Regions from separate parts of the Homo sapiens genome. Here region 2 is linked to region 1. A link means that fine-mapping ties the variant in region 1 to the expression of a gene that starts in the linked region. Tissue or cell type: spinal cord. Region 1 holds a variant in brackets; the other region holds the start of a gene. All regions are shown on one strand. Distances are between the middles of the regions.

Region 1 (4,414 bases):
TGAGCCACCGCGCCCGGCCTGTTCCTCTGTTTTTATCCTAGCTGTGCTGGCAGCTGATTAGATGGTGCCCACCCAGGTTGAGGGTGGGTCTGTCTCTCCCAGTCCACCAATTCAAATGTTAATCTCCTTTAACAAGACACACACACACACACACACACACACACACACACGAACAATACTTTGCATCCTTCAATCCAGTCAAGTTGACACTCAATATTAACCACCACAATATATCAGTCTTCCCAGGTGGTTGGTGGGAGTCCATCCCTGAAAGACAGACCCAAACTCATCATGCTGACAGTAAGGATGAGGAACAGTGCTTAGGCTTGAGTGCCACTGTTAAAGCAAGTGACTCTTTTTACAGTCTCTTAATCTTCTCTTCTTTGGCAAGTCCCAAACTCAGTGCCTACCCTTGTGGTCTCAATGCAACCCCATCTGCTTGGCTTTGAATCAAATACTAGTAAGCCTCAGCCCACCATAGGTCTTGCGCCTAGTCCACTCCTCATTCCACTCATGTAGAAACAGGGGCTGAGTGCTTGTCTAAGGTCACACAGGAAACCAGTGACACTCTGGGCTAGAAGCTCAGGGCTGATCCTCTGAGGACCTAGCCATCATCTGTGTGAATGTGCACATGTAAGCATGTGTGTGTGTATCTTCAACCTCACTGTGTTTTCTCCTTCTGACTAAACCTTTCTCTCTCATTCTCATTCCTTAGATTTCTCTTCTTGATTTGATAAGAAACAAACTTGCTAGCCAGAAAATGCTAGCAGTGAAATCCAAAAATTGACCAGTGTGTGGTTTGTTTAAACATTACCTTGCAGCATCTTTGCATTTGAATTTCTGTTGCTCAATAGCATCAAGTTATTTGGTTTTGGCCAAACTCAGTATTATGTCAAAGAACAAATGATAAACTGTTTGAAGTTTAATTCTACTATATGAAAAGAAATAATGAGAGCAGCTTAATTTCTGCAAAGGCATGTTTTTGTTCAAATGAACTTTAAGCAGAACTAGCACATTCATGGGGGTTACTGAGAAATAAAATTAAGGCACATCAGCCCTTTTCTCCCACATATTAAATTACAATGCCTTTCTCACCTTCCCCCTTCCCTTAATAAAACAAATGCTCAAACTCATCACTGAGATAGAACCAGCTGCCCCAGGTCCTGTAGCAGCAGGGAGAAATACAGACATTCCTTCAAGTTAAGTGTAATTTTAATCTTTATGGCTCTGGCAGTTAGAGCAATGGGACACCTTTTGTTTGGGAAATACTGATCCCTTAAGCTGAAAACTAATAAAACCAAATAGGCTTTCAGGAATGTTCATCAAGTGAGAAAAGCAAAAGGAAAGGCTCCATAAACTAGCTGTGTCCAAGCATAGAGGCCACTTCTGCACACACAGCCCAGACGCTCTCTAATGTGCCCGAGTATGCAGGAGATCTCGGCTCTGCCTAAGACATCTGAGCTGGAACTCAAAGAGGAGCATAGTGCCTATTAGTTCAAATGAAATTAGCTTAAAGGATATGAAAGTTTTATCAGATAAGCGAAGTTAATTGAAATTACATCTCTGCCTAGAAGTTATGCACATGGAAAAAATGATTTGATTCAACGTGACAATTAAAATCTCATTATGTATCCTGTCCCCAGTGATCCATGGGAGACTTGAGAGCTGAGGGAGGACAGGCTAAGCCTCTTGGCTCGGCAGCCGATGTGGAGGAGGCATGGTTGCCAGGTAACTGCTTAGTAACCAAGAAGGCAGAGGGGCAATGGGGAGGGGGGGACATGGCCAGAAAGGCTGCCTCCAAGCTTTTGTTGCAGACATGGGTCCCA[C/T]GATTCTTTGCCTGGACCTACATAACAATCTTGGAACAGTGAAAAAGCTCTCAGTCAGCCCATTTGTCTTTGGCTTACACAACCCCAAATAGTTAATCTGATGGGTTTTTAAAAATATGATCAACTTGACCAACCAGTTGTTTAGGCATTTGCAGAGTCTAAGTTAGAGCTGTTCTAAGGGGAGATCAGAGCAAGAGCAGGCCCAGTTTGCCCTCAGACCCTTTCTGCTTGGTTTCTCTATCTCCCCATTTGAGGCTGATTCCAAAGGTTTCTGCAAAAACATCTCTCATCCCACAGCCTCTTCTACAATGTGTGTTTGACACACTTGCATTGAAGGGGTGGAGTCCAGTCCTCCTCTGCTCATCACAGTGGACTTGGGACTGGTTCTATGAATAGCATGTGATAGTGGTGACAGTGTGTGACCTCTGGCACCAGGTCTGAAAAGATGCAGCTTCTTCCTTGTTCACTGGAACATTCAAGCTTGAAGCCCTGAGCTTCCAGGTAAGCAGACTTTCAATTCTGACTTCCCAATGCCACCATGCTTCAAGGAAGGAAAATGACAAGCAGTCTTCGGTCTCCTCTCCCAGAAATCCCAGCAGCCCAGGCCCCACACACAGAGTGAAGCAGCCTCCAGATAATTCTAGGCTCCCAGCCATCAAGTCAGCCCCCAGCCTCCATGTTTTCTTAGCTGAGATTCTAGACATCACAAAGCAGAAACAAGACATTCTCACTGTGCCCTGCCTTAACCCACAGAAATGATGAGCATAATAAATTGGTAGTGGTTTAAACCAGTAAGTGTTGGGATAGTTTATCTTGCAATAACTAAGACCCTTGGCCATCCTTCCCTCCCACCAAGGGATACAGAGCTCTTACTTCTGCTGAGAAGGGAGAAGGTGCAAGTGCGAAGAGAACCTCCCTCTCACTAAAGGGGTACAGAGGAGAGCTGGACCAGTGCTACAGGTCTTTAACCCATACATTGCTAGCCACTGCCTGCCTTTTTTAACTCCAGGACCTTCTCCATCACAATCGCAAACACCTTTTCCCTTCTTTTCCACCTCCTCTCACCTTCAGTCTCTTTCCAGGCTGAACCTTCTAGTCTGCAATAGGATGTCAAGATCCTATACTCCATGAGTTATACCCATACTGAAGGCCCAAGTAAGACACCTCAGCACCCTTACCATGAAACTCATGAACCTTAAAGCTGGTTTTCATTCATTATTCCAGTCAACTCCTCATGTTCATAATAGACTGCCCTCTCTGTTCCATCACCAGAAAGTACATGGCCATGGAAAAATAACTTACTTTAACATATATTAAAGACAAATCTAGGCTGGGCGCAGTGGCTCATGCCTGTAATCACAGCACTTTGGGAGGCTGAGGCGGGTGGATCACCTGAGGTCAGTAGTTCAAGACCAGCCTGGCCAACATGGCGAAACCCCATCTCTACTAAAAATACAAAAATTAGCAGGGTGTGGTGGTGGGTGCCTGTAATCCCAGCTACTCGGGAGGCTGAGGCAGAGAGAGCTGCTTAAAAACCCAGGAGGCAGAGGTTGCAGTGAGCTGAGATCGCACTACCGCATTCCAGCCTGGCCGATAGAGCAAGACTCCATCTCAAAAGAAAAGAAAAAGAAAAAAGAAAAGACCTAATCAAGAAAGCAAAGACACTCCCATTTTAAAAAGTATTTCACTATAGTCCAAAGCCAAGTAACAACAAATATACACTTCTTATGAAGGACCTTAACACTAACACTGGCCCCAGCTCCAAGAGGCAGTTGTTCTTTAACAGTATCCTGGTTCTTGGCCTATTATGACAGAGAGTAATCTAAAAAATAACTGGAGAAATGGCGAAAGAGCCACAGATCTCCTAATGTGCTGTAGAACCTTGGTTTCTATGCTTTTGTTTGTTTGGAGATACTTTTTTTAAACTGCACAACTTCACTGAAAGACTTGACAGCTCCCACTTCCAGCAGATACAATGCTGGTGAAATGCCACAGCAATCACCACAGATCAGAATCATCCCGGACCGTCCTAATCTCTCTGGAACCAAAGCTTTTCAATGCAGTCTTTACCGCAAGACCTTTACAAATTTTAACTGTGGAAACATATTTTCAGTCTTTTAATGCTGACAAGCAGAAAACCAGATTGAACATATAAACTCTTGATACAGTATGAGAGATACCCAAATTTTAAAATCCTACTTTCCATTGCAGCCCACTTATTACATCAGAGATATTTTCTGATGGACATCAACCTGAAAGAAAACCTAAAGAACTAAACTATCTCCATTTCCTGAAGAAGTTGGAGATATTGCTGAGAGTCATTTGAAACCAGGTACATGAAGAAAGACATCGAGAATCCCATATGGTGGGCACATATCTACAATCTCAGACAGCACCATATTCTTTTGAAGACCCAGCAAACTGTGCACCACGCAGTAAGTGTCTGAGTGAATTCCTCTAGAATATCTCTAATTATAAGCTTAAAGACTATCACCTTGTGGTTTAAAAATAAAATGTGATGCCTGCCAGGCCTGAATTCAGCAGCTCTGCTGTGGATACATCCTAACCCATCTCTATCCAGGAAAGTG
Region 2 (4,000 bases), 81 kb before region 1:
TGTGCAATTTGTTTTATTTTATCTTAAATGAAAATTATGTAAAATGTCCTTGTCTTTCAGACTTTAAAAAATCTTTTTGTTTCCTTTCTGAATAAAAGTTATATCACATTTGCACCCTCTGAAAACAGAAAATAACTTGCTCAAGGACCTTTTGGCCCAGTCAGTTACTTGAATCATGACTCACACGTGCTCTTACAATGGGTTCCCAGAAGGAATAAATAAATTGGCCCTTTTGCTCCAGAGATAGTAATTTAGCCAATTGTAAGATCAGAGTCTGCAGACAGGTGAGTAATGGTCAAAGCATTTCAGTCTCCCCGAGGGGTTAACCAAATAGAAATGAAAGAAGGGGGAGAGGGAGGGAGGGAGGGAGAGAAGGAGCCTGAGGCAGATATGGAACGATCTCTGCAGAGGAATTACAAAGAAAGTCATTTAAGCCCCTTTACAGACCAGCTCTGCTGGGAGGATGCAGAAATAAATGATCAGCGTCCCGGCGTGAGAGAGCTGCCCCCAGAAGTGGCCGGGGGAGAAAAGGGTGAAGAGGAGCTAAAGCTTAGGAGGCGATTTCCACGGAAATGGATGCTCCCTAAGGATGTGCGGAAAGGGGATGGGAATGTGCGGATTGGGGGCGGGGGCACCAACGCACTCCGGCGGGCAAGCGGTCTCCCGCACCACCTGCTGCAAGGCTCGGGAAGGAAGGCGAAGATAGCACCGGGGCATCCCCGGGAGTCCGCAAGGTGGGTCACTTGGACTTTGCGGAAAGAAGACGAATTTGAGGGGTGTGGGGAGCAGCCAGAGGCCGAGTCCGAGGCTGGGATGGCCTTTCAGGAGAGGACGTGGGAGTATGTGCTAATAATCGGTGGCTTTGGGGAAAGCAGAATGGAGCCGGCTGGCGTTTGGGAGACAAGGAATGGAGGAGAACAACCCTCTTCCTCACCCTGATTTGCTTTCTGGTAGGACCTCACGGCAGGTGTCCCCGGGACGGCGTTCTCCTAGGCTAGGCGACCAGGGCGGTGTCAATGCACCCTCCAGCGGTGCGCGCAGGCGGGAGAAGGGAGGGCGGCCCGGGCAAGTGAGACAGTTAAGGCAGTGTCCCCACCACACCCCCACCCAGATTGGCCACGCCGAGCTGGTTCTTGACAGAAGGCCTTCGCGGAGGAAGAGGGGGCACAGCTGCACAGGACACCCTACGGAGCCTGCGGGCGTGGAACTTTGCCAGGCGCACGGGAACGCGCGCCCTTCCTGTCAGCCTCCCGGGGCGCCAGGCTCCCGCGGCCCGCAGCGGGACAGCCTCAGTTGTGTGGGCTGGACCCAGTCGCTGGGGTACCGACCAGTCCTGGAAGGCGCAGAGGACGTGGAGTGGGGAGGCTGCCTTCCTATGTGCGAAGGGCCAGCCGGGCACGCAGTCCTCAGACCCTAGTCCGCACCCGGCAGGTCCCCACGGCACCTGCTGCGCCCTCCTCGCCGCTCCCCCAACCTCCCCATCTCAGAAAACTACCAGTTCTCTCCCGCCCCCCGGCGCCCCTTTCCCAGGAACGTGCGGAGGCGGGAGAAGAGGAAGACAGGAAGGGGGTGGGGATGTGAAGCGACCGTCCCAGCCTTCCCCGCCCGCCACCCCCACCCCAACTCGGCAGCCGTCACGTGATGCCTGGAGTGGGAGGTGGGGAGAAAAGGCGAGACTTTTGTGGGTGCTCCCGATCGCCAGTAGTTCCTTCAGTCTCAGCCGCCAACTCCGGAGGCGCGGTGCTCGGCCCGGGAGCGCGAGCGGGAGGAGCAGAGACCCGCAGCCGGGAGCCCGAGCGCGGGCGATGCAGGCTCCGCGAGCGGCACCTGCGGCTCCTCTAAGCTACGACCGTCGTCTCCGCGGCAGCAGCGCGGGCCCCAGCAGCCTCGGCAGCCACAGCCGCTGCAGCCGGGGCAGCCTCCGCTGCTGTCGCCTCCTCTGATGCGCTTGCCCTCTCCCGGCCCCGGGACTCCGGGAGAATGTGGGTCCTAGGCATCGCGGCAACTTTTTGCGGATTGTTCTTGCTTCCAGGTGAGAATACCCAGAGGCCAGCAGCCGAGGCCAGGTGCGCACAATCCATCTACCCGCCAGCCCTTTTGCCCCCAAGGCGCCCACCTCGGGGCCAGCCCTGCGCTGGGGCTGCCCAGCGGGAGTTGGCGGCCGCGACTGGTGCCCCGGGGCGCGAGGCTGGGAAAGTGTCCAAGTCCCGCGCTGCAGGAGGAGAGCGGGGAGCGGCGGGTTTGCGGGACTCCGGGCTGCAGCTTGTCCGGCTGCACCGTCGGGAGAAGCTGGGCTTGAGAGGAGGGAGGGTCCGAGCGGTGCTGGGTTCTGGGCGAGGGAGAGGGGGCGACATCTCCCGAACCCTGCCAAGTTGTCTGGCGCCTCCGGCACCCCGTGGGAGTGGCGCCGCCGACAGGTGAGCGATGCGCGAGGCAGCCTGCGGCCACGCTGAAGCTGGGTTGCTGCGCTCAGAGTGCGATAGATGTGGGGCTGCGGGAGCGTGGGTAGTTGGGTCTAGACAGGAGCGCGTACACCGAGAACAGCCAGGCCGAAGCGTCCAGAGGCGCAAAGGTCTCGCGTCCTCTCTCCAGTTCGCCTACTGGCTCCCGACTAAGCTCTGCAGAGCTGGAACCCCGACCACTGACCCTAGTCGAACGGTTGTCCTGAAAGCCGGGGCCTGGAAGAAAGGGCTGCGGGGTCGGGGATCCAGGGTGCGCGCGCTCACAAACGCCCTTTCCCACCCTCTGTGGCCATTCGGGTCGCCGCGGGGACGGCCCCGGAGAAGGGCCGCCGACCCGGGCTCGGGGACTTGCGGCGCAGCAGCGCTTGGCGTCTGGCACCTCCACCCAAGTTGTTCCCAGGTGGTCGCTCAGGGATCCTCAGAGCCCTGGCACAGAAACGCTGACTTTAAAAATTAAATAAATAAAAACTAAAAAGACGTCTGCGAATGTAATCACGAATGGTGCCAAAATAGTAATTAAGTAATTTGTAACCAATTAGCAATTAGGCAAATCCTTTGGCTTAGGCTGGAGCTAACGCACATCTCCAGAGCTACTTCACTCTTGCGGTGGTACCGTCCCCACCCTCCCTTCAACTTCTTGGGAAAAGGCCTGGGGTGGTAATGGATGGGCGCTTTGTGTCTAGAGCCGGGGTCCAGGGGTGGCGGGCACTATTCCACTTTCTTCCGTAGGACCCTAGGTACCCGCGCCGCCCCCTGCCGGTGTCAGCCACATCCAGCCCTACCCGGAGACCCAGGAGTGGTCTAAGCCTGCCAGAGGCTGGGAGCCGCCTGGCTCTGAGGCGTGGGATGGTCGTGATTTCCGGGGTGGGCTCTGTGGGGGCCGGATCTGAACCCGACTGCGTCTGTCTCGCAGGCTTTGCGCTGCAAATCCAGTGCTACCAGTGTGAAGAATTCCAGCTGAACAACGACTGCTCCTCCCCCGAGTTCATTGTGAATTGCACGGTGAACGTTCAAGACATGTGTCAGAAAGAAGTGATGGAGCAAAGTGCCGGTAAGAGCCTGGCAGCCCTCCCCCTCGCTCTTAAGCCTGGGCTGTGGGGTGGGAGTGAGGGGGCCATTAAATAGCAGGAAAAAGGACTGACTTTGATTTAATGCCCACACACTGGTTATCGCAGATTTAGTTTTACAGTGCTGGGAAAATGAAGAGTTCCAAGTTACTTTAATCTCATTAGAGTTAATTACCAAGGCTTCTCCCCAAGGGTCTTGGGAGGGGAAGTGCATGTAAATTAGTGGCTCTCCTCTTTTTATTTACTCCCTTCACCTCCCTATGCTAAAAGCTGATGGAGGTAGAAAATATATGGCTAACCAGCCCTGGCTTGGGCAACTAGACAGTAGCCTGTGAGCATTGTCAGCCTGAAATATGGAGCTAGTTGAAGCTCCCAGAGGTCAGAGCTTGAAAAATGTGTTTTGTCATAGAGGCACACCATATTTCCTTGAAGAACACTACAGGATCTTTGTTTAATTTTAGAACTAATGCA

Alleles and levels. Positions count from the first base shown, and alleles are read on the strand shown. Sizes are in standard deviations (SD) of each study's normalised expression.
For the expression in spinal cord of the gene that starts at base 1,708 in region 2, T is the high allele of the variant in region 1 and C is the other (moderate effect, 0.42 SD a copy in GTEx).

The links. PIP is the estimated chance that this variant, and not a neighbour inherited with it, causes the effect.
Region 2: it holds the start of LYPD1, and the variant in region 1 is fine-mapped to the expression of LYPD1 in spinal cord (GTEx, PIP above 0.99).

Annotation. Positions count from the first base shown.
Region 1 is chr2:132,586,575-132,590,988 of GRCh38, reverse strand. The region is part of intron 1 of GPR39 (G protein-coupled receptor 39); the gene reads right to left. Among named protein-coding and RNA genes, the nearest start is that of LYPD1, 81 kb to the left of the region's middle. The variant C/T (reference allele first, on the strand shown) is at 1,827.
Region 2 is chr2:132,667,913-132,671,912 of GRCh38, reverse strand. LYPD1 (LY6/PLAUR domain containing 1) reads left to right here and starts at 1,708. Exons shown (of 3, transcript NM_144586.7): 1 at 1,708-2,032; 2 at 3,376-3,513. The coding sequence starts at 1,981. It overlaps NCKAP5 (NCK associated protein 5), which reads left to right. Exons shown (of 20, transcript NM_207363.3): 20 at 1-125. RefSeq lists an enhancer at 1,882-2,845.